Linked DNA regions of Homo sapiens. The protein of the gene in region 2 binds, or shares a complex with, the protein of the main gene of each other region. Each region holds a gene or a part of one and is shown on either strand. Other genes may lie near its edges. The genes, in order: TBP, TAF3, TAF11 and TAF13.

Evidence for each region.
Region 1: TAF3 (region 2) and TBP share a complex: the UniProt entries of both Homo sapiens proteins name them as parts of the TFIID basal transcription factor complex.
Region 3: TAF3 (region 2) and TAF11 share a complex: the UniProt entries of both Homo sapiens proteins name them as parts of the TFIID basal transcription factor complex.
Region 4: TAF3 (region 2) and TAF13 share a complex: the UniProt entries of both Homo sapiens proteins name them as parts of the TFIID basal transcription factor complex.

Annotation. Positions count from the first base shown.
Region 1 is NC_000006.12:170,564,310-170,571,368, forward strand, and holds part of TBP (TATA-box-binding protein), read left to right. Parts: intron 1-235; coding exon 236-323; intron 324-2,608; coding exon 2,609-2,700; intron 2,701-5,302; coding exon 5,303-5,470; intron 5,471-7,059. UniProt on the Homo sapiens protein: The TFIID basal transcription factor complex plays a major role in the initiation of RNA polymerase II (Pol II)-dependent transcription.
Region 2 is NC_000010.11:8,010,505-8,017,131, forward strand, and holds the end of TAF3 (transcription initiation factor TFIID subunit 3), read left to right. Parts: intron 1-3,226; coding exon 3,227-3,333; intron 3,334-4,132; coding exon 4,133-4,247; 3' UTR 4,248-6,127; downstream 6,128-6,627. UniProt on the Homo sapiens protein: The TFIID basal transcription factor complex plays a major role in the initiation of RNA polymerase II (Pol II)-dependent transcription.
Region 3 is NC_000006.12:34,878,043-34,885,042, forward strand, and holds part of TAF11 (transcription initiation factor TFIID subunit 11), read right to left. Parts: exon of another isoform or gene 5,396-7,000; coding exon of another isoform or gene 5,357-5,395; intron 5,039-5,356; coding exon 4,890-5,038; intron 2,335-4,889; coding exon 2,247-2,334; intron 2,022-2,246; coding exon 1,925-2,021; intron 679-1,924; coding exon 548-678; 3' UTR 1-547. UniProt on the Homo sapiens protein: The TFIID basal transcription factor complex plays a major role in the initiation of RNA polymerase II (Pol II)-dependent transcription.
Region 4 is NC_000001.11:109,065,951-109,073,009, reverse strand, and holds part of TAF13 (transcription initiation factor TFIID subunit 13), read left to right. Parts: intron 1-6,777; coding exon 6,778-6,875; intron 6,876-7,059. UniProt on the Homo sapiens protein: The TFIID basal transcription factor complex plays a major role in the initiation of RNA polymerase II (Pol II)-dependent transcription.

The DNA.
Region 1 (7,059 bases), on a different chromosome or scaffold from region 2:
TATCCAAATGTGGGAATACTGGTAACTTCTACCTCAGTGCGTTATATGTATTAAATGGAATAATCTATATAAAATGCTCAACATGTGCATGATACTTGTTAAACAATAAATGTGAGCAATTAAAAAAAAGTAAAGCCTGGTTGAAATAATCAGATGTCTGCATAATTTCTAACGCCTCATCCAATGAAACTTAAGTAATTTAAATAGTCGTGTTTTCTTTTTAAATCTCTTACAGAAATATTGTATCCACAGTGAATCTTGGTTGTAAACTTGACCTAAAGACCATTGCACTTCGTGCCCGAAACGCCGAATATAATCCCAAGGTTAGATCTATTTTAATGTATTTCTTTTTTTTTTCTTTTTTGTCTCCTCTGCCGTGTCTCTATATTTTAATGTATTTCACGCTATAAAACAAATGTCTGTAGATCAGGCCAGGCACAGTGGCTAATGCCTGTAATCCCAGCACTTTGGGAGGCTGAGGAAGGAGAATTTCTTGAACCTAGGAGTTCACCACCAGCCCAGGCAACATGGCAAGACCCTGTCTCTTAAAAAAAAAAAAAAAATTGGCCGGGCTTGGTGGCTCACACGTGTAATCCCAGCACTTTGGGAGGCCGAGGTGGGCGGATCATCTGAGGTCAGGAGTTCAAGACCATCCTGGCCAACATAGTGAAACCCCGTCTCTACTAAAAATACAAAAATTTGCCGGGAGTGGTGGCATGCGCCTGTAATCCCGGCTACTTGGGAGGCTGAGGCAGGAGAATCACTTGATCCTGGGAGGCAGAGGTTGCAGTGAGCGGAGATTGCGCCATTGCATTCCAGCCTGGCAACAGAGCGAGACTCCGCCTCAAAAAAAAAATCTGTATATCAAAGAGTTTGTGTTATGCTTATTCCTTGACACCAATAAAATGAAGATCTAAAGTAAAATGTGCATTGTTTTGTATCTTTTATTGAGTGTCTGTGATATAAGAATCCCTGGGAGTACAGCAGTCTATAAAATAAGCTAAGTTATATATGTATTGTATTGGGATCATGTGAAGAATTTTGTATATGTATAGGGATGATGTTAGCCAGCTATAGTAGGCAAAGTAATTTGGATAAACATTAGCTGGGTTGAGAGAAATGTTAAGTAATGGACTTAGGGTGCATTTTAAAATCCCTGAAACATAATGCCTGAGATCTGAAAGACAGCTAAGGGTCTGAAAATCACCTTTTAACCACTCATAATGAGTCTGTATGACATGTAGCATTCTAAGAATTAATCTTTCATCTATTATAATCACATTTAGTTGAATACATAATTTTATTACTTTACGTTCTTAAGTGATATTTAACCAATAAAAATAGTAGAGGAAATTCTGGAAATTCAAAATAGCTAGGCTTTTCCTGGGACGTATATAAACTACTATATACTGCTAGCTTTTTTAGATGTTGATAAAATCACAGGGAAGACATAGAGCAGGTTTTAAACTAAAATTGTTAAAAGCCAGGCATGGTGACTCAGACCTGTAATTCCAGCACTTTGGGAGGCCAAGGTGGGAGGATCACTTGAGGCCAACAGTTCAAGACGAGCCTGGGCAACATAGCAAGGCCTTGTTTCATCAGAAAATTTAAAAAATTATCTGGGGTTGGTGGCACACACCTATAATCCCAGCTACTTGGGAGGCCAAGACAGAAGGATCTCTTGAGCTCAGGAATTCGAGGCTGCAGTGAGCCATGATTGCACCACTGCACTCCAGTCTGGGCAACAAAGTGAGACTCTTGTCTCTAAAAAAAAAAATTAATAAAATAAAAAAATAAAATTGTTAAAGCAATCTAGTTTGTCAAAGAGTCGTCTTAATTAGAAACATGTAGGTTTTTATTGTATAATTAAATGTATTAAAATATTTAAGTTGTTTCAAAGTAATTATTTGCTTTTTATCATGTACCTAATAACTGAGGCCATTAATTCAACCCACAGTTGAAATATTTTCCCCTTGAGTTACCACCTTAGCAAGAAAATTTTCTGAAAGAATTAACATGTTTCAAGCATAAAAAGCAGAAAATAAAAGTTAAAACTGTGTTTTTTTCCTAATTTGCATTTATGTGTTTAATACATTAATATTGTTTCTAAAGACCAATTGAAAGCATGATTTTACTTCATTACGTATTGATAGGCTTGTAATCTGATTTATTAATTCCATTAAGGTAGAAAAGGTTTATTGGTTTATTTGCCTCAAAATTCATATTAATAAAACAAAATGTATCAGAGAAGCTATAGTCATGATAAGCAGCAAATATAAAGTAGAAACAGAAGCACTTGTATTTATTGAGAACATAACCAAATTTTGCAAACATTTCTCTTGATGGAATGCTCATGTGAAAGAACATACAGATTTGGTATAACTTAGTCACAATTGATTATTTTCTGCTCCTTATGCAAAGGAATATTTGTTACATGTGGTGTATGCAAATCCTTTACAGATATACAGAAATACAGAACAAATATTTTGATAACTAGATGTACTATGTCCTTCCTACCAGTTGTGATTTTTTTGTCAATGGGTGGTTCGCCTAACAACATTGAGCAGTTTGGCATGACCTCACTAATGATTCTCTCTGACCATTGTAGCGGTTTGCTGCGGTAATCATGAGGATAAGAGAGCCACGAACCACGGCACTGATTTTCAGTTCTGGGAAAATGGTGTGCACAGGAGCCAAGAGGTAGCCGTAAGAAATTCATTCTTCTGGTCTATGGGTTATGAATGAAAAGGTGATATCTCATTGTTTTTAGGTTATTAGGTTAGCACTTTAACATGTTATTATTGCTTTCTTATAAAAACCATTTTAATATGATTCTATTAATTATTTTTATTTATTTATTTATTATTTGATTCTATTAATGTTAGATAGCAGTGATTTCATTTTCTTAAAAATTAGATATGGGCAGGCGTGGTGTCTCACCAAGGCGGGCAAATCACTTGAGGCCAGGAGTTCGAGACCAGCCTGACCAACATGGTGAAACTCCATCTCTACTAAAAATACAAAAATTAGCCAGGCGTGGTAGTGGATGTCTGTAGTCCCAGCTACTTGGGAGGCTGAAGCACGAGAATCGCTTAAATCCGGGAGGTGGAGGTTGCAGTGAGCTGAGATCATGCTACTGTACTCCAGCATGGGAGACAGAACAAGACACTTTCTCCAGAAAAAAGAAAAAAATTAGGTAAGATGTAATACAACATCAGAACTATTAATAAAATTCCCTTTATGTGAAAAATGTTGTAAATAACACAAATACATCTTGAAATGGAAGAAAAAATTGATCAAGAATTAAAACACTTCTAAGCTAATGGTGTAAGGGCTTTGCAGACCTTATTGGGCCTGGCAGCGTGACAGCATCACATGTGTTGGCTGCAGAAACCTGCCTTCTCACTGGAACTAGCTTTCATTAATAGTGTTTGAGTTGTGCAGATCTTAAGGAATGCACCCTTGTTATAAAATGTCATTGCCTATATTCTCCATCTGAAGTGATCCTGTCTGAAGGTTAGTACTCTGCGGCCCTGACTGTTCTAAACAGAGCTTATATACTTGGTAGAAGTCAAAAACTAGGGGGAAAATTAGTGACATTAGCTTCATAAATGAACTGAACAAATAAACTAAAACTTTTTAAATGAAAGAGTATTAAATGTACTTGGAGGTATCAACACATAGAAGGGGGCTGTGGATATTTTTGCTTATTCTGAAGTTTGAAATTGTCTTTCAGTGATGGGAATGCCATTGGTGTGGACATTCTGGCTCCTGATCTCCGAGGTTTTTCAGAATGCAGGACAAGGATGTGTTCTTGCCTTTCACTTCCCCTTGGCCACAACATGCAGTAGTAACCTCTTTAATTAAGAGCGTTTTTGTTTGCTTGTTTTCCCCTGCATGGAACATCAGAAACTTTTGGTTTATCAAGGCAAGCTTTTCATGCAGCATTTAGCCTTTTTGTCCCAGAGCATCTGAAAACTGAATATTGTATATGTAGTTGGATGACTATTTCATCAAGACAAGAAACCACCAATACATTTACCTGAAATTTAAAAGCGTAGCATATATATATATGCTTGATTTTTGTTCTTCCTGATCCCCTGCACCTGATAGTCTCTTTATGGTAATATTTTCACATTCTTTTTTGTTGTTGTTGTTGTTTTTGAGATGGAGTCTCGCTCTGCGCCCAGGCTGGAGTGCAGTGGCATGATCTCGGCTCACTGCAAGCTCCGCCTCCTGGGTTCACGCCATTCTCTTGCCTCAGCCTCCCGAGTAGCAGAGACTACAGGTGCCCACCACCATGCCTGGCTAATTTTTGTATTTTTAGTAGAGATGGGGTTTCACTGTGTTAGCCAGGATGGTCTCAATCTCCTGACCTCATGATCCGCCTGCCTCAGCCTCCCAAAGTGTTGGGATTACAGGTGTGAGCCACCGTGCCCGACCTGCCTGCCTGCCTTTTTCTCTTTTATTTTTTCTTTTTTTCTCTTCTTTCTTTCTTTCCTTTTCTTTTTTTTTTTTTTTTTTTTTTTTTTTGGTGGAGTCACCTAGGCTGGAGTGCAGTGGCACAATCTTGGCTCACTGCAACCTCCACCTCCCAGGTTCAAGTGATTCTCCTGCCTCAGCCTCCCAAGTAGCTGGGATTGCAGGTGCCTGGCACCATGCCCAGCTAATTTTTGTATTTTTAGTAGAGATAGGGTTTCACCATGTTGACCAAGCTGGTCTCGAACTCTTGACCTCAGGTGAGCTATCCGCCTTGGCCTCCCAAAGTGCTTGGGATTAGAGGCGTGAGCCACCATGCCTGGCCCACATTCTGCTTTTCTTATGTAAGCTCTGAACTGCTAAGTCGTAGTTTATTCAACAAATGACATAGGAATGTCTATTCATGATGAGTCTTGGTATAAAAGAGGATAGAATTAGTGAATACATTGTTCAATAATAAATCTCATCAACATTTTCTGATCAAAATGAAGTTTGTTAGTTTTCCTCTCAGTAGAAATGCATGGGCTAAAATACAGAAATAGTGATGACTGATGATGGTGATAATTCACATCCATAAAATCTAGGGCTACAATAATTTGGCGGATTGAAAGGTCATTTTGGCAGGCCTACAGTTTTCTGTCAAGGATCCAGGAATACTTTATAAGGAATTGTGAATGCCTGTCAGTCTTTTCTCCTATTGCAAGAAGGCTGACCAGTTTACACTTTATTAGTTTACTGTTTTGGACTTTTTATAAGTTATTAGTCTAAATAAGTATTTTAGCTGGCTCTGAGTATGAATAACTCACTTTTTTCCTTTCCCTAGTGAAGAACAGTCCAGACTGGCAGCAAGAAAATATGCTAGAGTTGTACAGAAGTTGGGTTTTCCAGCTAAGTTCTTGGACTTCAAGATTCAGAATATGGTGGGGAGCTGTGATGTGAAGTTTCCTATAAGGTTAGAAGGCCTTGTGCTCACCCACCAACAATTTAGTAGGTAAGTCTGAAATGTATTATGATTGTTATTGGCAACAGTTCATTTATAATCTAAACATTGTTCAGAATAAAACACATGCAAAATATTCAGTATATGAGAACAGTTGACATGGTTATAGTTGTATGTATTCTTGCATTGTCTTCCTGATGTTCTCAGTCATATTTATCACCCTCACCAGCCTCTGCTTCCCTTATCACTTTGCGGTACCCATAACTCCCCTTTACTGGAATGAATTTGATTCTACTTCTGTATGTTTTATCGTTTTATTGCTGAATACACTTGGAATGCATGAATTGACCCTAACCTTGTATCAATTTTTTTTCCCAGTTTGGATCTTCTCTTTTAGTCAACATTGTGTCAGATCTACCAGCAAAGTGTGAAGTTGAGCGATAGGAACAACTTTCTAATTATCTTCCCTGCTACTTGCAGGTGAAGACTCACAGGCAGGCAGCCCTGCCCACCTCACTGCTTCATCTCATGGTCTTCTGGTGTCTGTTCACAGGCACATTAGTTCTGTGTGCCCCTGGGGCTCACTTGGTTCCTCCTGCCCTAGGCCTTTGCACTTGCCACTTTTATGCCTAGTATGCTCATTTCCCTTTTCACCTAGGAAGCTCCCACTTGAGTTCCATATGTCTACCCATTCCACTCTTCCTCAGAGAAGCCTGTCCTGAATTTTGTCTTAGGTCAGACACACAGAAACAGAGGCATCCTGTTTTCAGTCTCTCCGAACTGAGAAAAATGAGATTACTAGGCTTAGAAGAATATGTACCAGGCCTGGCCTGGTGGCTCACACCTGTAATCCCAGCATTTTGGGAGGCCGAGGCAGGCAGATCAGTTGAGTTCAGGAGTTCAAGACCAGCCTGGCCAACATGGTGAAACCTCGTCTTTACTAAAAATACAAAAATTAGCTGGACATGGTGGTGCATGCCTGTAATCCCAGTTACATGGGAGGCTGAGGCAGGACAATCATTCGAACCCAGGAGATGGAGGTTGCAGTGAGCCAAGATCGTGCCACTGTACTCCAGCCTGGGCGACACAGCAAGACTCCGTCTCAAAAAAAAAAAGAATATATACCAATAGTCCATTCAGTCAGACAGCTTAATCAGGTATAGGTTAATTCTCAGGCTAGTATATAAGTTTGATTAAATTTCCTGACCACAATTGTCAGCTAGAGAATATTTCAATTTAAGGAGGTAAGATATGATTAAAAGTTAAACTGTCAGTATTGGATCTTAGAAGTAAATGATTATTAGGACTGTAATAGTAATTATTAGGACTGTAAAAGTAAAGGATTATTATCTGCATTAGATATCATTATATCTAATGATATAGAGACTGCAGACATAACTACAGGGCTCTTTTTCTTAAATCAGAAAATCCAGATTCAATAGAAATAGGGTAAAGTGATAGGAGGACAAATAGCCTTCCATCCAGTGGTTATCAACTGACGACTACAAGTCGGCCTCACTTGCTTTAATTATTCTATTCTATCCTTTGATGCTGCTTGAAGAACTGTGTTTTACCTCTTGACTAGTTTGTTTATTCAGTATTTTTCCTTGTACAGGTCCTCATTTTATCTAAAAGCACAC
Region 2 (6,627 bases):
CACTAATTATATTTTATTGGCTATGATCCAGAATATGCCAGGGCTTGCATATTAAATGGAAATGAACTTTGAGACCACAGAACTCCTGAGTATCCAAGCATGATTTCAAATTGTAAAACCAGCTGGACGCAGTGGCTTACGCCTGTAATCCCAGCACTTTGGGAGGCTGAGGCAGATGGATCACTTGAGGTCAGGAGTTCGAGACCAGCCTGGCCAACATGGTGAAACCCCATCTCTACTAAAAATACAAACAAAATTAGCTGGGCATGGTGGCACGTGCCTGTAATCCCAGCTACTCGGGAGGCTCAGGCACAAGAATTGCTTGAACGGGAGGCAGAGCTTGCAGTGAGCCAAGATCGTACCACTGCTCTCTAGCCTGAGGGACAAGAGCGAAACTCCATCTCAAGAAAAAAAAAAATTGTAAATCCCACCATGTCCACTGAGTCCACATTGTTCTGGGACTGTTTTTTAGTTTCTTACTCCCTGAATACACTCTGGCAGTAAAGTGTTTATACAGATTACGTTCTTTGGATACTATAGAATTAAACACACAAACACACAACGAAATATTTAAGGTGTGTGGAGCCATTGCCATTGCTGTGACTACCAACTCTGCAGACTGTGATGTGTTAGCCTACTGGTGGCCCTGACCTTGTAACTAGCTAGGTACTAATATGATTGGAAAGTGGCTGGGTAGGACTCATGGTATTTGTTGTTATAAACTGTACAATATTACATTTCTTTTTTTTATGTTTTCTTTTTTTCTTTTGAGGTAGTCTCACTCTTCTTGTCCATACTGGAATGCAGTGGCACAATACCACTCACTGCAGCCTCGACCTCCTGGGCCCCAGTGATCCCCTCACCTCAGCCTCCCGAGTAGCTGGGACCACAGGCGTCTGCCACCACAACTGGCTGTTTCTTGGCTGTTTTTGTTTGTTTGTTTTTGGTTTTTGTGGAGATGATGTCTCTCTGTGTTGCCCAGGCTGGTCTCAAACTCCTGGGCTCAAGCAGTCCTTCCACCTTGGCCTCCCAAAGTGCTGGGATTACAGGCATGAGCAACCACGCCTGGCCTATTATTAAATTTCCTTAAAGGAGTTTTGGAAGGAACTTCTAAAAGTGTGATCATCAAATTGGTCCATTCGGGGACCAATCATTGTAGGTGTTTAATTAGAGGCAACATCACCCCCAAATGGGTTGATCAGGAAAGATTTTGTACTTAACCTCCTTGACCTTCGTGTCTTCATCTGTAATTAAGGAGTTTGTGTTAAACTTGGTAATCTCTGTGGCATGTTCTAGCTCTAAAAGTTCTGGTTTTCCAGTAGATCTTTGAGCTAACTCACTTCCTGGAGATGAGTCCAACTGGAATAGACAATGTAGATGGAAAGCTTACTGGCTGTGCATGGTGTCTCACGCCTATAATCCCAGCACTTTGGGAGGCCAAGGCAGCTGTATCACATGAGCCCAGGAGTTGAGACTAGTCTGGGCAACATAGTGAGACCCCATCTCTGCAGAAAATACAAAAATTGGCTGGGCAGGGTGACATGTGCCTGTAGTCTCAACTACTCAGGAGGCTGAGCTGGGAAGATCACCTGAGCCTACCGAGGTCAAGGCTACAGTGAGCCATGATCACACCACTGCACTCCAGCCTGGGTGACAGAGTGAAACCCTGTCTTTAAAATAAAAATGAAAATTTAAAAAAAGCTTTCTACCTCATGAAGAGAGACGCTTTGTGGTTAGAGGACAAAATTTATGATTTAGATGACATACAAAGGCTAGAGAGCAAAAAGGCAAATTTTGTCACTGCCTAATGGTGTGATGTTGGAAATGCCACTTAAATTCCCTTAGCTCCGGTTTCCCCATTCATAAGCTACCCAGAGGTTGTTTTACAGGGATTAAATGAAATGAGATGTTTAGAAGAATTTAGTAAGCTATGAGGTATTTGGTATTAGTTGCTGTGGATGCCGTGGTGAAGTTCTTGTGCGGCACACAGAGTCACGGCCTTCTGACTTCAAGCAAGGTCAGCCAGCAGCAGGACTGGCCACACGTGGGAGCTTCAGGGCATAGGATGTTCCACCAGCCTTGGCCTCTAGACAGCAGGTACGGGTGACTGCTGGTTCTCACCCCTTGTTACTTTTTCTCCTGGAATTACGGAGGGTCAGAGATGTAGTTGCCCACAGATTTCTTTAGGAAGTTTTCCTGTCAATGTAGTTTGCCTTTGTAGAGTTGCCTTAAAGGAAGCCCATCACTACAGTGAAACATATATGGACCCCCAATGCACCTGTCACACACAAAGAAAGCCTTTCTAAAAGCATGTCTAGTCAGTGTGGTATTTGAAAGTCTGGGAAGAACTATCCCTTACAAAATAAACCGGATGCAATAATGTGCTCTGTTATTGTAAACACTTTGGAAGTTACCTTTTTCTTATTGCTGGTGTTGAATGCCCATCAGTGAATTAATTCTTCCAGGTTGGCTCTGTTCATGTGAAGTTTGAGGAAGTGGTGAATAGGATGTTCCCTCTTTAGAACTGCTAAGTTAAATAAAGTCAACTCTAGAGTACACAATATTTGTAGCAAAATAATGTTGAACCTTGTAGCTCTGTGGCCTCCCTATCCCCTTATTTCATTTGCCCTTTAGTTGATTGTACTTTACTAAAAATGTCATAAAGGGAATGGAAAGTTACTTAGTAACAACTCTTTTATATCCTTGATCTTATCAGCTCCTTCAGGAGAAGGGCTTGGCTAATAAGTAATAAGGTGGTGCATGCACATTTGGCTGTCTATATTAATTCCATGCCTATGAATGCGATTGAGAAAACCACATATAAAGTGGAGCTCTATAACTTTCAAAAAATCAGTTGTTACCACCCTTATAAAGACCCAAATCATTAAGAATTTACATAGTTATAGTTTTTTTTTTTATGAAAGGGGTTACAGGTCATATTGTTCACAGAGATGATTATAAAATGCTTTTTATGACTTACAAAAGAAAGCTTAGAATATTCGTTAGAAATGCCTTATCATTGAACACTTAGCGTTTTTCTGTTTCTTGATTCTAAAACAGTGATGACGCTGATCATGGCATTAATGAAGTGCTGATCTACTATATTTTTTAGTTTAATATGCCTGTTTATTCGGTTAACAGTATAAAGTAATCATTCTGATCTGGCCTCTTTTTGTTTTTTTTCCCATTCCCTCCATTTTTGCCGCTTCCGCTTTGCAAACATCAGATCCGAGATGAGTGGGGCAATCAGATCTGGATCTGCCCTGGGTGTAACAAGCCTGACGATGGGAGTCCCATGATTGGGTGTGACGACTGCGATGACTGGTACCACTGGTGAGTGCCCAGGGCGCCCTGCCGGCCACACTCATTAGGCAGCATCAGCCGCTCCTGAGATGAAGCATCCACTGAGTAGATTCCTGCCTTTGGACTGACCCAGGGCTGTCCTAGGGACAGTACATGGAGTCAAATCACTGAGCCTGTGAAGTGCAATTAACTGCAAAACCCAAGAGTGCTTAGACTATTGTTATTCACCCTAAATTCTGAATATTCTGCTTAGCTTATCTATCCTTCTTATTAAAAATAATAATACTAAAAGGAGATCCAGGGGCTTCCCTGGCCTTCCTTTCCAGTAATGTTCTGTAGGAGCTGTAGCACTGGCCAGGACCACGAAGAGGCAGCGCCTTTGTAAAGGTGGTACAAACTGCAGGACTAAAGACTGCTTATCTGTTTTTTAGACCTCTTCAGCGGTTCCTAAAAACTGAAAAGCTCAACCAGAATTTATGCAGATAATCTCGTGTTATCTTTAAAATGTCAGATACAAAAAAGATAGCAACCTGTTCAGTTATGATAGACGATATCTGTGAGATAAAGACAAAGCCGTGGCTCGGAAGACTTCTATTCCTGGCTGAGAGGATGAATGAACGGATGAGTCTCTGCAGGGGGCCTGTAAAGGGAGCATCTGTGATCTCATAGTCCGCATGCCCAACAATAGTGCTACACACAAGTTAGTGCTGCTTGACTTTGATTTCGGGTAAACATGTCATAGACTCTAAAAAATTACTTTAAAACATGGAAGGGAGAAGAATAGATGTCTGTATAAAAGTTGCTTATCTGAGCTTGTTTTCACGTGCAGGCCCTGTGTTGGAATCATGACTGCACCCCCAGAAGAGATGCAGTGGTTCTGCCCCAAGTGTGCGAACAAGAAGAAGGACAAAAAGCACAAGAAGAGGAAGCATCGAGCCCACTGACGACTCCCGAGGGGCTGGACCAAGCGGGGTCAGCCCGGGCTTCTTCCCTGGCGCCTCTGGAAGGGAGCTGGTGCAAGTCTGCCGTCACATCCACCCCCAGATGCCTGTGGATAAAGAACCCAGGAGGACTGAGGCTGGAACACACCGCGCACCTGGATTGTTCACTCCCGAGCCGCCTTGGCCTGTGGCTCCGTGGCAGTGCGACAGAAGGAAACTCAAGCAGAGGCGTGGCCTGGGGGCTGCCCCTCCTCCACTTCTCTAATACCAGTGACAAGTATTATTAATAAAGAGCGTACATCTTCCCTTTTGATTTCCTTTATTCTCTCCAGGGCCTTTTCATTGAGGTATTAGATGAGAAGATAATGTACAAACTGCCTCAACTGTAATTTAAGGATGATAGAGTCTGTATACAGTTTTCAGCCCCTTTCCCTCTATAGTAAGATAATCAGAATAACATAAAAGAAAACTCCAGTTGGAGTACCGGTAAATATTTTTGTGATAAGAATATATGAAGCTTCCCTCCTTCCCCCGTTTTTAGTACTAACATGTAAAATGTTCAGGCTTTTGTGAAATACCTTATATTTTTTAAGAAAAAGGTTTCTATCATGTCCTGTTTGCTTTTGTGCAAATTATTTTTGTTTAATGTATTTTATATCTTCGTTGCATTCTAATTTTGCCCTTCTTTAAACTGCTGGAGTCTCTTCTCACTGCTTGTACATTTCATCAACTTGTATAAAAACTCTTCAGACTAAAAGATTGCCCCTAATGTAAATAATAAATATTTATGAAGTAGTTATTTTTTAAATTTTTATCGTGTTTAATTCTGGCTTTCTCTGAAATCCACTGTGATTTCAGCCAGGTCTGTAATGACGCTGGACAGAAACAAGGCTAGAGAAAAAGCCATCGTTCAAAGAAATTTCCCTTGAGCTCAGCCTGCGCAGTGCCCGGAAACATGGTGGGGAAAGGGCCCGAGCAGTTGGAAGGAAAACAAGGCAATTTAAATTTAGAGTTTATGACTTGAAGTTGTTTTGTTTGTTGTCTATTTTGTTTTTGTAAATTTCTTTGACAGACTTTTACTAAAAGGACATGTAGTTTCCATGAAAGTAAAAAAAAAAAACAACAAAAAACCCACATATACTGTAGCATTTTGTCTTTATATTGTTTTATTTCTACAAATCTGTTCATTAATATTGTGCTTTAAGGCTGAAATGAAGTATATTATGAATTTTTTTAAGAAAACTCATCAAATTTCAGGGTATCACAAAACTTTATTATATTATTATACTGCCCACTATTTATTATATGTTATAGATGTCTGAGAGGTAAACCAAATATTTTATTTTTAATGTTAAAAAAACATCAAATTTAACTTTATTAGCATATTTTAGCAACTTTGGGATAAATACGGACTTTTACTTGATTTTGAAATAATCCCAGTGTAGGCCCATGTGCTGGATCTGTTGGATGCTAGAATATGGGCTTTGAACCTAATACAAATATATTACTAGAAAATGTGATTTTTTTAAATGCCAAGTAAATTGATATTAGTGTATGAATTAGTCATATTTTAAAACATTATGTGGTTAGAGAAATGCGGTTTTCTGCCATGAATGTTAAGTTGCAAATCAGTGGAAATGGAGTCGACCTCTTCGGAGCACAGGGTGTCATTGCCCTCGTTGTTCAAGAGGCCAGAATTTTTCTATCCCCGCTAAGAAACAAAGCATCTATGTTGAGATATGTGTTTTTTTGTTTGATTAATTTGAGATCATTCTAAATACTTTATACAATATTTTCACATGCACAAAAATGCGCGTTAGTGGTTTTTGGAGAGGGGTGAGGGGTGGGGGAAGTGCAAAATAAAGATTATTGGCTATTTCATAGTTTGCTTTTCCATTTTCTTTATTTAGGATTTAGTTCCTTGAGGCGTGGTCCATGATCTGAAGTTGCCACGTTTAAGTGAGCAGGTCACGCTACTGAAATCAGAATGGAGGTGCCTATATATAACTTTCCCCCCAATCTTACTGTCTGAGAGACTTCAGCCCATGCTACATTTAAGGAATTTCAATCAGTTTGTTGTCCCTTGCTATTTCATGGTTGCTTTCCTAAATCCAGTTCATGATTTTATAAATGGTCTTTGCAATAATAAAACCAAAGAATCATTTTCAGGGGGCTGGAGAGCTCGAGGGATTAGTAATGGAATACAGAGCCTTTCACCTCTAGGTCAGTGAGTCGGATCCAGTCCAGGTCACTAGAGACCAAAAGTTGTCACCATCTTATGACTGTTCAGTGGCCTGTGTGAAATGAACTGGTGGTCTCAGTCTCTACTGGGTGGCTGGCTGTGACACCAACCAAAGGAAGTTCAAGAAACTGCAAAGAGAAA
Region 3 (7,000 bases), on a different chromosome or scaffold from region 2:
AGTTCACGACCAGCCTGGGCAACAAAGCAAGACCCCATCTCCATAAAAAATAAAAATAAGTTAGCTGGGCACAGTAGTGTGTGCCTGTAGTCCTAGCTACTCAGGAGACTGAGGTGGGAGGGTCACTTAAGCCCAGGAGTTCAAGGCTGCAGTCATGCCGCTGCACTCCAGCCTAGGTGATAGAGCAAGACCCTATCTCAAACAAAACGAAACCAAAACAAAACAAAACTCTCTTGGAAAGGTTTTCTCTCTGAAAGCAGTTCCCCTGTCCAGAAGATGCTTATGGCCCACGTATCTTCTTCCAACTGGTCAAGACAGTTAAATACTTCAAAATGCCCCAAGAGGTCCCAAAATTTAGTCAAGGCAAGTATCAATCAGGCTACATACTTTCTAGGTGTGACAAATATCAGAGTTTTGAGAAAGACATTAAAATCATCATGGAATCCTTGGAGGCCTGAGATACTAAAGCACCAATGCAGACAGTCTTATAGGAAGTCTGGAACCAATACTTCTTCCGTCAGTAACATAGGCCTTTCTAGACTTTGGTCTAGAAGAAGATGATTTTTTTGTGCTTCGAGTTAGGGATCTGTCCTTTTGACTTTAACCTTCTAACGGCTTCCCTCATATGTTTGGGTTGTAGTGGTGGCATTTCTCCCCACTTCTCACACACATCCAGTGCTAAACAGAGGGTAAGGAGAAAGTCTGATTATCACACAATAATTTACTAATCACATAATCCTTTTGAGTCCTGTAATTCTTGTTAACTTTTCTTAAGCTTGCTAAGGAAATAAACAGACATTTTTCCTTTTTAAGAGAATATTAGTATAACGTCTCATAACAGGCTTTATCATAGACAACAGTTTAAAATATATTTCCTATAGGCCATATGCTGTGGCTCATGCCTATAATCCCAGCAGTTAGGGAGGCCAAGGTGGGAGGATTGCTTGAGCCTAGGAGTTCGAGACCAACCTGGGCAACATGGCCAAACCTTGTCTCTACAAAAAATTAAAAAGTTAGCCAGGGGTGGTGGTGCGCACCTGTGGTCTCAACTACTCAGACTGAGGCAGGAGAATCACCCGAGCCCAGGAGCTAACTGTTACAGTGAGCTGTGATCGCATGATCAAGGCACTCCAGCCTGGGTGACAGAGTGAGACCCTGTCTCAAATAACTACATAAAAATAAAATTAAAAATTAGCCAGGTATGGTAGTGCACGCCTACAGTCCCAGCTACTTGGGAGGCTGAGGCAAGAGGATCCTTTGAGCCCAGGAGTTTGAGGTTGTAGTGAGCTATGATCACACCACTGTTACCATCTCATTTTGTATACCATCTTAATTTGTGATTTGTAAAAGGAAAAATAAAAAATATTAAAAAAAATAATAAAGATCATGCCACTGCACTCCAGCCTGGGTGACAGAGTGAGACCCTGTCTCAAAAAATAATAATAATTTAAAAGTATATATCTCCTGCTCAAAAAAAAAAAAAAAATTTCACCAGCTAGAGTAGCAATGGGAAACAGCCAGGCTTTTTACTCAATAAAGGGGTCAGGCAGTTCCTAGGGATCACAACATTAGGGACAACTCACCATCCCACACAGGTCACCCCTGTGATTGCTTTTCTTGTATCTTTACTTTTGGCAGCAGAAATGAGCAAAGTCCACTGCAGAAAATACAAAGTCTACTTCTTTCACCCTGGGCTGAGGAAAGGAATCAGGGAGGGGATTTCCCAGATGGTTCCTTACCATCTGTTATTGAAACTTGCAAGGAATAACAGTCATGTTCTCCTAAATAAAGGGCTCCCCACTTGGTCAACTTCAAGTGCAAATGAGAACTCCCATAGGTGCTTTAATAAGCTCCTTTGTGTAGATATTCTTAAAAATAAGACCACCACAGGTACAATCCAGTATTTGTAACCAACACTACTCACCTTCTTCTACCACCTCCCCGACGAAAACCTTGGAAATACCAGACATAGCAATAACAACATTCTGAGACACAGAGGTGCCAGTGATGGACTGGATCAGCTTGAAAGAAGCACAAAGACTCCGTGATCACAATAGTCAAAGACTGGCTTTGGAACACAGTACCAAGTAATTCACAGAAAAAGGTAAGATAACTGAAGTGCATTTTTTTTCCCACCTAAATAATCCCCTGACTTGTCTAACACCTCACTTCAAATGCCAATGGACATGGCTCTTGAGTTCAGTTCTAAAACGTGATGGAGATGAAGTGTGGTGGTCCATCCTTACCCTTTTGATGGCTGCCTTAGGGAAAGCTGAGCGGCGATACATTTCATAACGGTTCAGCTGCTCCTCAGAAAAAGAAGAAACCAGGATTCTAAACAAAGATCCAGGTAACTAAGTTAACTTATAAGAACGAATACTCAAGATATTATGAAGTCAATAAAAGTTTCAGACAATTCAAAAACGAATTCTTAAAGGGGTCAATGGCATTAGGCTTGGTGCCTTGAGGAATGAAGATAAAACACTTCTACTCCAAAGGAATTTGAGAAAACGTAAAACAAAAACTTCTTTTCTTACCTGTTAACAAAAAGAACAACACTGGGTCACTGTATCGTACTACACAGACTGTTTGCAGCATTAGACACTATCTCCATAACTCTATCTTATTGAATTTCACACTGATGGTAAAAATTTAATATACAAATTTATAATCAAACCAGTAGTTTTCAACATTAACAGATTTAGGGGAAATATCTGCAAAATATGTGGAAACAGTTAATACTCCTAATGTATAATTCTTTCAAATGAATAAAGGGGCCATGTCAATTTTTGAAAATGAACAAAGTACATGAACAGGAAATTTACCAAAATACCAATGGTCAATCAACATGGGGGAAACAACCTTCATTATTAACTAAGGAAATATTATTTTCATAGATAACATTTTTCATAAATCAGACCACTATTAAAAAAAGAATGGTATTAGAATATGGGACACAAACACATGCTGGCAGAGTGAACTGGAACACCTTTTTGGAGAGAAATTTGGAAATACATATGAAAAGCCTTTGAAAATGTTCATACTATTTGAATTAGCAATTACACCTCTAGGAGTTTATCTTAGGAAGTAATGGACAAGTATGCAAAGATATGTCCAAAGATCCTCATCATAATGTCAAAAGTAAAAATACCCAACCAGAAGCACTATAGGGATTGGTTAAATTATAGTTCAACAACATAATGGGATACAATGTAGCCATTAAAAATTATGATTTATGAGCATATTTACTGACATGAAAATATTTAGCTATACATATCAAACATCTAAAAAAACTTTGAAAAGGTACATACCCAAACATTATACCCAACTATATACTTAGAGTGAACTCTGCGTGGTGAGTTTATGGGTGATTTTTTTCTATTTTTCTGTATTCTCTGAATTATTTGCAATGAGCCCATACTACTTTTACAATCAGAAAATGTAATAAAGCTATTTCTATTTTTAAGAAAACTATGACCTAGATGTATAATTAGTGACATGGAAAACATTCACCATATCTAATGTGAAAAATAGGCTACAAAACAGTATTTGACATTTGTGGAAAAAAAAATTTATAGATATATATGTATAGAAACTATCTTGAAACTTATAAGCAGGATATATCTCTGTGGTAAGGTAATTATTTTTTCTTCTTATCTATTTATTTTTTTTGAGACAGCATCTGGCTCTATCGCCCAGGCTGGAGTGCAGTGGCGCAGTCTTGGCTCACTGCAACCTCTGCCTCCTGGGTTCAAGTAATTCTCCTACCTCAGCCTCCCGAGTAGCTGGGACTACAGGCACCCACCACGACACCTGGCTAATTTTTTGTAATTTTAGTAGAGACGGGGTTTCACCATGTTGGCCAGGCTGGTCTCAAACTCCTGACCTCAAGTGATCCACCCGCCTCAGCCTCCCAAAGTGCTGGGATTACAGGTGTGAGCCACCGATCTCGGCCTTCTTTTTATCTATTTATATTTTCTATGCTGTAACATAATTATTTGAAAAAATTGTTTTTGGCCAGGCACAGTGGCTCACACCTGTAATCCCAGCATTTTGGGAGGCTGAGGCGGGCGGATCACGAAGTCAGGAGTTCGAGACCCGCCTGGCCAACATGGCAAAAACCTGTATCTACTAAAAATACAAAAATTAGCCAGGCATGGTGGCAGGAGCCTGTAGTCCCAGCTACCTGGGAGGCTGAGGCAGGAGAATCGCTCGAAACCAGAAGGCGGAGGTTGCAGTGAGCAGAGATTGCACCACCGCACTCCAGCCTGAGCAACGAGAGCGAAACTCTGTCTCAAAAAAAAAAAATTTTAAATAGAGGCCGGGCACAGTGGCTCATGCCTGTAATCCTAGCACTTTGGGAGGCCGAGGCGGGCAGATCACGTGAGGTCATGAGTTCAAGACCAGCCTGGCCAACATAGTGAAACCCTGTCTCTACTAAAAATACAAAAATTAGCTGGGCATGGCGGTGCATGCCTGTAGTCCCAGCTACTCGGGAGGCTGAGGCATGAGAATCGTTTGAACTCAGGATGTGGAGGCTGCAGTGAGCCGAGATCACACCATTGCACTCCAGCCTGGGCGACACAGTGAGACTCTATCTCAAAAAAATAAAAAATAAAAAAAAAAACATAACATAACATAACATTAGAGAAAGGGTTTCACTATGTTGCCCAGGCTGGTCTCAAACTTAGGCCTCAAGAAATCCTCCCACCTTGGCCTTCTAAAGTGTTGGGATTACAGGCGTGAGCCACCATGCCCAGCCATAATGTATTAATCGTTTTATTTTCTTTTGAGTTTATAAAAGAAAATTTAAACACCAAGAAAAATTTATTAAATTTGTGTGGTCAAGTGAGAGCCTCGAAATGGGGAATGATAAGAAAGTGACTTACTGCATCTTCTGAATCTCATCTTCATCTACTTTCTGCTTTTTCTCTTTCTTTTCTTTGGTATCTATTTTCAGTTTTTTGGCTGCAGGATTAAGTAATGATGAGTCTTCCCTTTCAACTGTTGTTAAATCTGAGACATCCTGACTCTCGAGCTGGGAAGATGAAAGAAACTCTATTATATATTTGGCCTACTTTCCAGGCTTGGGCAAAGTAAGAAGACATCATCCTTATCACAAAACAACAAATCCATTTATTGAGTAGTTTTTCAGTTCTAGGCACTGACTGTACCATCAAGGATAAGATACAGTATCTCTCCTAAGGGAAGATTATGGCTCAGCTATGGAAAGAAAACCTGCTAAATAATCTAGTTTTCCAGTTTGGCTATGAGCACAGCTCCAGTATCTGTTTACAAGGGTAATGAAATGCCATGGATCATGAAAATCACCCTCCCCCGGGCCCACTCTTCTGACCTTATTTTTCAGAGGGGATGTCAGCAAAGTCCCCTCCATCCAGCCAGCTCTTCTGCTTCCAGATCTATAGATCTCTTTACTGCTGATGATTCCACATGGAAAGAATATTAAAAAGGAGGCCCCTTCTCATCAAAACAGTGTTTATTTCAATTTGGGACTTTCAAGTGAGCTTCTCACACGTAGTGCTCTTTTGTTCTTATTCTTCAATCCTACTGTTTCATGCAAATGTTTATTTCACATTACTAGTCTTTTTGAAGATAGGTTTGTCTCTTATTATTTATATCTCCCCCCCATCAGCATTTAATGCAATTTTACTTATGCTGGATGTTTAATAAATGCCTGTTCAAACCCCACTTAAAAGTAGGCAAAGACACTTCTCAAAACAAGACATACCTGTGGCCAACAATCATGTGAAAAAAAGGTCAGCTTCACTGATTAGAGAAATGCAAATCAAAACCATAATGAGATACCATCTCATATCAGTCAGAATGGCTATTATTCAAAAGTCAAAAAATAACAGATACTGGCAAGGTTGTGGAGGCAAAGGAAAGCTTTTAAACTCTTGGTTGGAGTATAAATCAGTTCACCATTGAGGAAGGCAGTGTGACAATTCCTCAAAGACCTAAAGACAGAATTACCATTTGACCCAGCAATCCCATTACTGGGTATATACCCAAAGGAATATAAATTGTTCTATTATAAAGACACATCCACACTTATGTTCATTGCAGTGCTATTCACAATAGCAAAGACATGGAATCAACCTAAATGCCCATCAATGGTAGACTGGATAAAGAAAATGTATTTTCCAGTATACACCATGAAATACTATACAGCCATAAAAAAGGAGATCATGTCCTTTGCAGGGACATGGATGGAGCTGGAGACCATTATCTTTAGCAAACTAATGTAGGAACAGAAAACCAAATACTGCATGTTCTCACTAATAAGTGGGAACTAAATGATGACAGCACACGGACACATAGAGGGGAACACACACTGGGGTATATGGAAGGGTGAAGGGTATATGGAAGGATGAAGGGTGGCAGGAGGGAAAGGATCAGGAAAAATAACTAAGGGACACTAGGCTTAATACCTGGGTGATGAAATAATCTATACAACAAACCCCTATGACACACATTTACTTATGTAACAAAACCTGCACATCCTGCACATGTACCCCTGAACTTAAAAAACTGGCTGTTTAATAATAAAAATCAAATCCAAACTTCACCCCCTCTGACTTAATGTAGAATCTTAAGTATACTACAAAACTCATTAATGAGATTTAACTTGTCCCTAAAGAGGAATTCAAATTTAAACTCATACAGGAATATGGGAATAGGTGGGATGAAGGTAGTCTATCTTTGACAATCTTTTCAATTTCTTTTTAGTTACTGATTTATACAAGTTTTCTAACTGTGCTTCAAGTTTGGTGGTTTGTATTTTCCTTTAAAAAATCACCTATTTTTCTCAGATTTTCACATTTATTTGGCCTAAACTTGAACATTAAATGTCTTTATAACTTTAAAGATCTCCATATTAGTGCCTATAGCCTTTCATATTTTGTAATGTTATACATTTACATTTTAAATAATGTTTTAATTTTATCATTTATGTTTTTTAATGTGCTAATTCATTAGT
Region 4 (7,059 bases), on a different chromosome or scaffold from region 2:
TGTAATCCCAGCACTTTGGGAGACTGAGGCGGGTGGATCACTGGAGGTCAGGAGTTCGAGACCAGCCTGGCCAACATGATGAAACCCCGTCTCTACTAAAAATACAAAAATTAACCAGACGTGCTCGCTTGAACCCAGGTGGCAGAAGTTTCAGTGAGCCAAGATTGCGCCACTGCACTCTAGCCTGGGTGACACAGCAAGACTCTGTCTTAAAAAAAAAAAAAAAAAAGGTGGTGAATCGTGTAAGGCATTATAGTGACATGGAGGCTAGATGCAGTGGCTCACGCCTGTAATCCCAGCACTTCGGGAGGTCAAGGCAGGCGGACTGCTTGAGCCCAGGAGGTCAAGACCAGCCTGGGCAACATAGTGAAACCCTCTCTCTACAAAAAATACAAAAATTAGCAGGGCATGGTGGCATGCCCCTGTAGTTCCAGCTACTCTGGAGGCTGAGGTGAGAGGATGGCTTGAGCCCAGGAGGTGGAGGTTGCAGTGAGCCCAGATTGCACCACTGCACTCCAGCCTTGGTGACGAAACCAGACCCTGTGTCCAAAATAAATAAACAAATAAAATAAACAATAACATGGAGATTATAATGTATTGATTCTCCATCCTACCCCCTCAGTAGACGGTTTTGACCCTTTTTGGCAACACGAGGAAGGGAGAGCTGCTACTAATACTGATGATCCAGGCCAAGCCCTGGAACACAGCATGAAAATGTGCTCTCCATCTCCCAGTCCTGGGTCCTTTATGTAAAGTTATGTCTAAGTATTGAGAGATGAGGCCGCACAGATTTATGAATATGATTTATTTAGGCTGGGTTATATGTGAGCAGTTCCCAAATGCCCTTGAAACTACAGGGTCAGTATATATATATATATATATATATATGTGTGTATATATATATATATATATATATATATATATATGTGTGTGTATATATATATATATATATATATATGTGTGTGTATATATATATATATATATATATGTGTGTGTATATATATATATATATATATATATATATATATGTGTGTATATATATATATATATATTTTCTTTTTGAGACAGAGTCTCACTGTTGTCAGTCTGGAGTGTAATGGCGCAATCTTGGCTCACTGCAGCCTCTGCCTCCTGGGCTCAAGCGACTCTCCTGCTTCAGCCTCCTGAGTAGCTGGGACTACAGGCACATGCCACGACGCCTAGCTAATTTTGGTATTGTTAGTAGAGACAGGGTTTCATCATGTTGGCCAGGATGGTCTTGATCTCTTGACCTCATGATCCGCCGTCTCAGCCTCCCAAAGTGCTGGGATTACAAGCATGAACCACCGTGCCCAGCTTCAGCGTCAGTGTATCTTTTTTAAGAAAAATTATTTTCTTAATTTTTATTTATTTTCTTAGAGACAGGGTCTCACTCTTCTGTCACTGGGGCTGGAGTACAGTGGCATGATCATAGCTCACTGCAACCTTTAACTCTTGGTGTCAAGTGATCCTCCCACCTCAGCCTCCTGAATAGCTGGGACTATAGGTGCATGCCACCATGCCCAGCTAATTTTTTTTTTTTTTTTTCCTGAGATGGAGCCTTGCTCTGTCACCCAGGCTGGAGTGCAGTGGCGTGATCTCGGCTCACTGCAACCTCCACCTCCCAGGTTTAAGCAATTCTCCTGCCTCAGCCTCCCAAGTAGCTGGGATTACAGGTGTGTGCCACCATGCCCGGCTAATTTTTTGTATTTTTAGTAGAAACGGGTTTCACCATGTTAGCCAGGCTGGTGTTGAACTCCTGACCTCAGGTGATCCACCCCACTCGGCCTCCCAAAGTGCTGGAATTACAGGCGTGAGCCACCGTGCCTGGCCACACCCAACTAATTTTTGTATTTTCAGTAAAGACAAGTTTCACCATGTTGGCCAGACTGGTCTCAAACTCCTAGGCTTAAGTGATCCTCCTGCCTCAGCCTCCCAAAGTGCTAGGATTACAGGCATGAGCCGCCAGACACTGTTTTATTTTTTAAACATCCAAATCCTTTTCCATATTTTGTTTCCTCACTAATGCTGACCATTTCTTATTTCATTTCTCTGATGCTCCTTATACCATTATGTGGTTTTTACTTATTAGGTCAGCATAAGAAGGGGATCCTTGTACCAGAGCATCCCAGAGTGATGTTCAGTCGGTTGTTAGCAAAGACCTTTGTTCCACTGAGATTACTTTGTGATGACAGGAATTTGTAATCTTCAGGCTTCTCCTTATCTTACCTGAATATTCATAGAAGTTACTGACGAAAGATCTATTCTCCTGAACCTTTAAAAAAAAAATTTGGGGGGGACTGGGTACGGTGGCTCATGCCTGTAATCCCAGCACTTTGGGAGGCCAAGGTGGGAGGATCACTTGAGGTCAGGAGTTCAAGACCAGCCTGGCCAACATGGCGAAACCCCGTCTCTAATAAAAATACAAAAATTAGCTCGGCGTGGTGGTGCATGCCTATAATTCCACTACTCAAGGGCCGGGCACGGTGGCTCATGCCTATAATCCCAGCACTTTGGGAGGCTGAGATGGGCGGATCATGAGGTCAGCAGATCCAGACCAGCCTGGCCAACATGTTGAAAACCCATCTCTACTAAAAATAGAAAAATTAGCTGGGCGTGGTGGCCTGCACCTGTAGTCCCAGCTACTTGAGAGGCAGAGGCAGGAGAATCGCTTGAACCCGGGAGGCAGAGGTTGCAGTGAGCCGAGATCACACCACTGAACTCCAGCCTGGTGACAGAGAGAGACTCCGTCTCAAAAAATAAAAATAAAAAAAGAAAGCGTCAAGGTTTTGAAAGATGAAAAAGTCAAGGAACTATCGGATTCGAGGGAACTAAGGAGGCATGACAACTAAATAGTATGGGAACCTGAAACAGAAAAAGGACATTGGTGGAAAAACTTGTAAAATCTGAATGAAGTCTGTACCTGTACCGATGTTAATTTCTTAGCTTTGATGACTCCCTATGGTTGTATAACATGTTAACATAAGGGGAAGCTGGATATAGGGCATATGGGAACCCTGTACTATTTTTGCAACTCAGCTGTAAATCTAAAATTATCTTTTTTTTAAAAAGGCAAAAAAAAGTACAGAATCCAAAACAGAACGATAGGAACTATTGGCTCCTGTGTTTGTTTTTTTACTCCTGTTTCTGGACCTAAAGACTCTTGCCAGTGTAAAACCCTAGGGATATGTCTATCTCAGGCTGGTTTCCAAGTCACCCTTTTCTTCTGTAGGCCTGGTCTACTTTCTTCTCTTTGTACTTCTACTAGTTTTTACTTCTTCTAAATAGAGGAATTATTCTTAATTTACTCATTTCTTCCTTTAGAAGTATTCTATGAGTATCTTTTTTAAAAAAAAAAACTTAGGTACAATAAATTGTGCAAGTCTTAAGTGAACAGCTTGCTGAATTTTATGTATGCTATACAGTCGGCTCTCTATGTCATGGGTTCTGCATCCATGGATTCAACCAACCTCAGATGGAAAATATTCAGAAAAAAAAACTGTGCCTCTATTGAATATGTATAGACTTTTTTCCTTGTCACTATTCCCTAAACAGTATAGTATAACAACTATTTACATAGCATTTACATTGTATTAGGTATTGTAAGTAACCTAGAGATGATTTAAAATATACATAGGATGTATTTAGCTTATATGCAAATACTATGCCATTTTATATCTGGGATTTGAGCATCTGCAGATTTTGGTATCCACGGGAGGTCCTGGAACCAAGCTCCCAAGGATACTAAGGGACAACTGTATACATGTGCGCACACACACACACACACACTCACACACTTGTAATCACTACTAAGATCAAGATACAGAACACTTCCAGCATTTGACAGCATTTCTTACCATTTACATATACCCCTTTGATAATCTGATAAAAGTTATAATTATTCCCAGAAAAATGCCCATGTACAGATAATGTATAAAATTTTTCCGTATGATTTCAGGGTAGTCTCAAGGACTTCTTTTTTTATTTTTTGAGGCAGAGTCTCCCTCTTTCGCCCAGGTTGGAATGCATTGGCATGATCTCAGCTCTCCGCAACCTCTGCCTCCTGGGTTCAAGCTATTCTCCTGCCTCAGCCTCCCAAATAGCTGGGATTACAGGTGCGTGCCACCACGCCCCCCTAATTTTTGTATTTTTAGTAGAGACGGGGTTTCACCATGTTGGTCAGGCTGGTCTCAAACTCCCGACCTCAGGTGATCCGCCCACCTTGGCCTCCCAAAGTGCTGGAATTATAGGCGTGAACCACCGCGCTGGCCTTCAAGGACTTCTTAAAGCTTGTCTCTGGACTGGGAGTTTATAGGCGATAGGATAAGAACCTCTGTGGATCTCAGCTGGGTGTGGTGGCTCACACCTGTAATCCTAGCACTTTGGGAGGCCAAGGCAGGAGGATTACTTGAGTCCAGGAGTTCAAGACCAGCCTGGGCAACAAGGTGGGACCCTGTCTCTACGAAAAAATAAAAATAAATAAATAGTTAGAAACCAGTTCAAAAACTGCCTAGGCAACATAGCAAGACCCCTGTCTCTAGAAAAAATTTTAAATGGCTGGGTGTGGTAGCTTAGGCCTGTAATCCCAATAATTTGGGAGGCCAAGGCAGGCAGATCACTTGAGGCCAGGAATTCAAGACTATCTGGGCAACGTGGCAAAACCCTGACTCTACTAAAAAATACAAAAAAATTAGCTGGGTGTGGTAGCGCATGGCTGTAATCCCAGCTACTTGGAGGCTAAAGTTTGAGAATCTCTTGAATCCGGGAGGTGGAGGTTGCAGTGAGTTGAGATCGTGCCATTGCACTCCACCCTGGGTGACACAGTGACACTTCTGTTTCAAAAAAAACCCCACATATTAGCCAGGCATAGTGGCATGTGTCTGTAGTCTCAGCTGCTCACGTGAGCCAGGGAGGTTGAGGCTGCAGCAAGCTGTACTGCAACACCACTCCAGCCTGGGCGACAGAGCCAAGACTGTCTCAAAAAAGGAGAGCAAAAAAAAGAATTCACACGGATCCTGTCTGCCCTAAACTACAACTACCAACAAGTGCGATGCTGTTGTGGGTATGAGTAAAGACGCGAACCAGATCAGCTGGGTTCAAACTCAGGTTCCATCTCTTACTAGCTTTGTGACCTTGGGTAAATCAGTTACTGCAGTGCTTTAATTTTCTCATCTATAGAATGGGGATAATCAATAGTTTCTACCTTAAAGGATCATTGTGAGGATTAAATGAGTTATATATGTAAAGGACTTAAGACAGTACCTGGCATATAATAAGGGCTATATATGTTTTATCTTTTGGCAGTTATTTTTATTTGTCTGTATTAGACTTCTCTCTTATTATTTTTGAGACACAGTCTCTCTTATTATTATTATTATTTTTGAGACACAGCCTCCCTCTGTCACCCAGGCTGGAGTGCAGTGGCGCATTCTCAGCTCACTGCAACCTCTGCCTCCTGGATTCAAGCGATTCTCATGCCTCAGCCTCCCGAGTAGCTGGGATTATAGGCATGTGCCAACACCCCCAGCTGACTTTTGTGTTTTTTTTTTTTTTTTAGTAGAAACAGGTTTTCACCTTGTTGGCCAGGCTGATCTCAAACTTCTGGCCTCAAGTGATCTGCCTCAGCCTCCTGAAGTGCTGGGATTACAGGCGTGAGCCACCATCCAGGCCTACGCCCAGCTAATTTTTGTTTTTTATGTAGAGACAGGGTTTCGCCATGTTGCCCAGGCTTGTCTCAAACTCCTGAGCTCAAGCAGTCTACTTGCCTGGGCCTCCCAAAGTGCTGGGTTTACAGGCGTGGGCCACTGCACCCGACCTAGACTTATCCTTTGCATTTCCTATGGTTTCTTCAGATGAAGCCTGAAAGGGCTTTGCTGCAGTTGTATTGATCTAGGAAATGTCAAAATTCCTTGTAGTAAGCCCTCTGCTTTCTCATTTTGAGTACCCTGTTTCTTCCTATAAGAACAGATTTGGGGCTGGGCGCGGTGGCTCACGCCTGTAATCCCAGCACTTTGGGAGGCTGAGGCACGCAGATCACCAGGTCAGATCATCGAGACCATCCTGGCTAACACAGTGAAACCCCTTCTCTACTAAAAATACAAAAAATTAGCCGGGCGTGGTGGTGGGTGCCTGTAGTCCCAGCTACTCGGGAGGCTGAGGCAGGAGAATGGTGTGAACCCAGGAGGCGATGGAGCTTGCAGTGAGCCAAGATGGTGCCACTGCACTCCAGCTTGGGCGACAGAGCGAGACTCTGTCTCAAGAAAAACAAACAAACAAACAAACAAAAAAAGTATTTGGAGAACTGTCTCTCATGTCTTTTCCCCTATGGTAATATCAGTAAAGAGTCTGCCGTTTTTCCAACGCCCCACTGCCATGCCCACACACAAAAACCACCTCCAAAAAAGGCTAAGCTGTTGCTGTCTGTCCTGTCCTTTGCCAGAGTTTCCTACTTAAAGGTGTTCTGCTGGGGGCAGGGACTGGTAAGTAGATGCTAGAGATTAGGAAAAGACTGTTTACCTTAGGGTTCAGTAGGTGGGAGGAAGGAAGAGTTTTGCTGGAGGCTACGTGGGAACAGTTGGTCATCAGACTGTTCTTAAACCTTTTACACAAGAATCCATACTTGGAGATAACAAATACGATGTAAATATGTTTTCATACCAATATTATCTATAACTTGGTTCATTTCTACTTTATTTTTTTAAAGTATCAAATTGTTAAATCTGTAAAAGTAAACAAAAGTAAGTGATTGTTCTTTTACAGTGCGATGTATGATGTATGGCTTTGGGGATGACCAGAATCCTTATACTGAGTCAGTGGATATTCTTGAAGATCTTGTCATAGAGTTTATCACTGAAATGGTAAGATTCTTTCCTAACTGGTCTTAGTTAATTGAAGAATAGATTTGAAATATTAAACTTTAGGTAAGACTAGAACTTATGGCATCCCTTTGAAATAAGCTATCCATTTGAGTGCTTGTTTGCAGAAGTTATTGGTTACTATTTATCATTGAGGATGGAGGTTATACATGTATATTCTATCCCC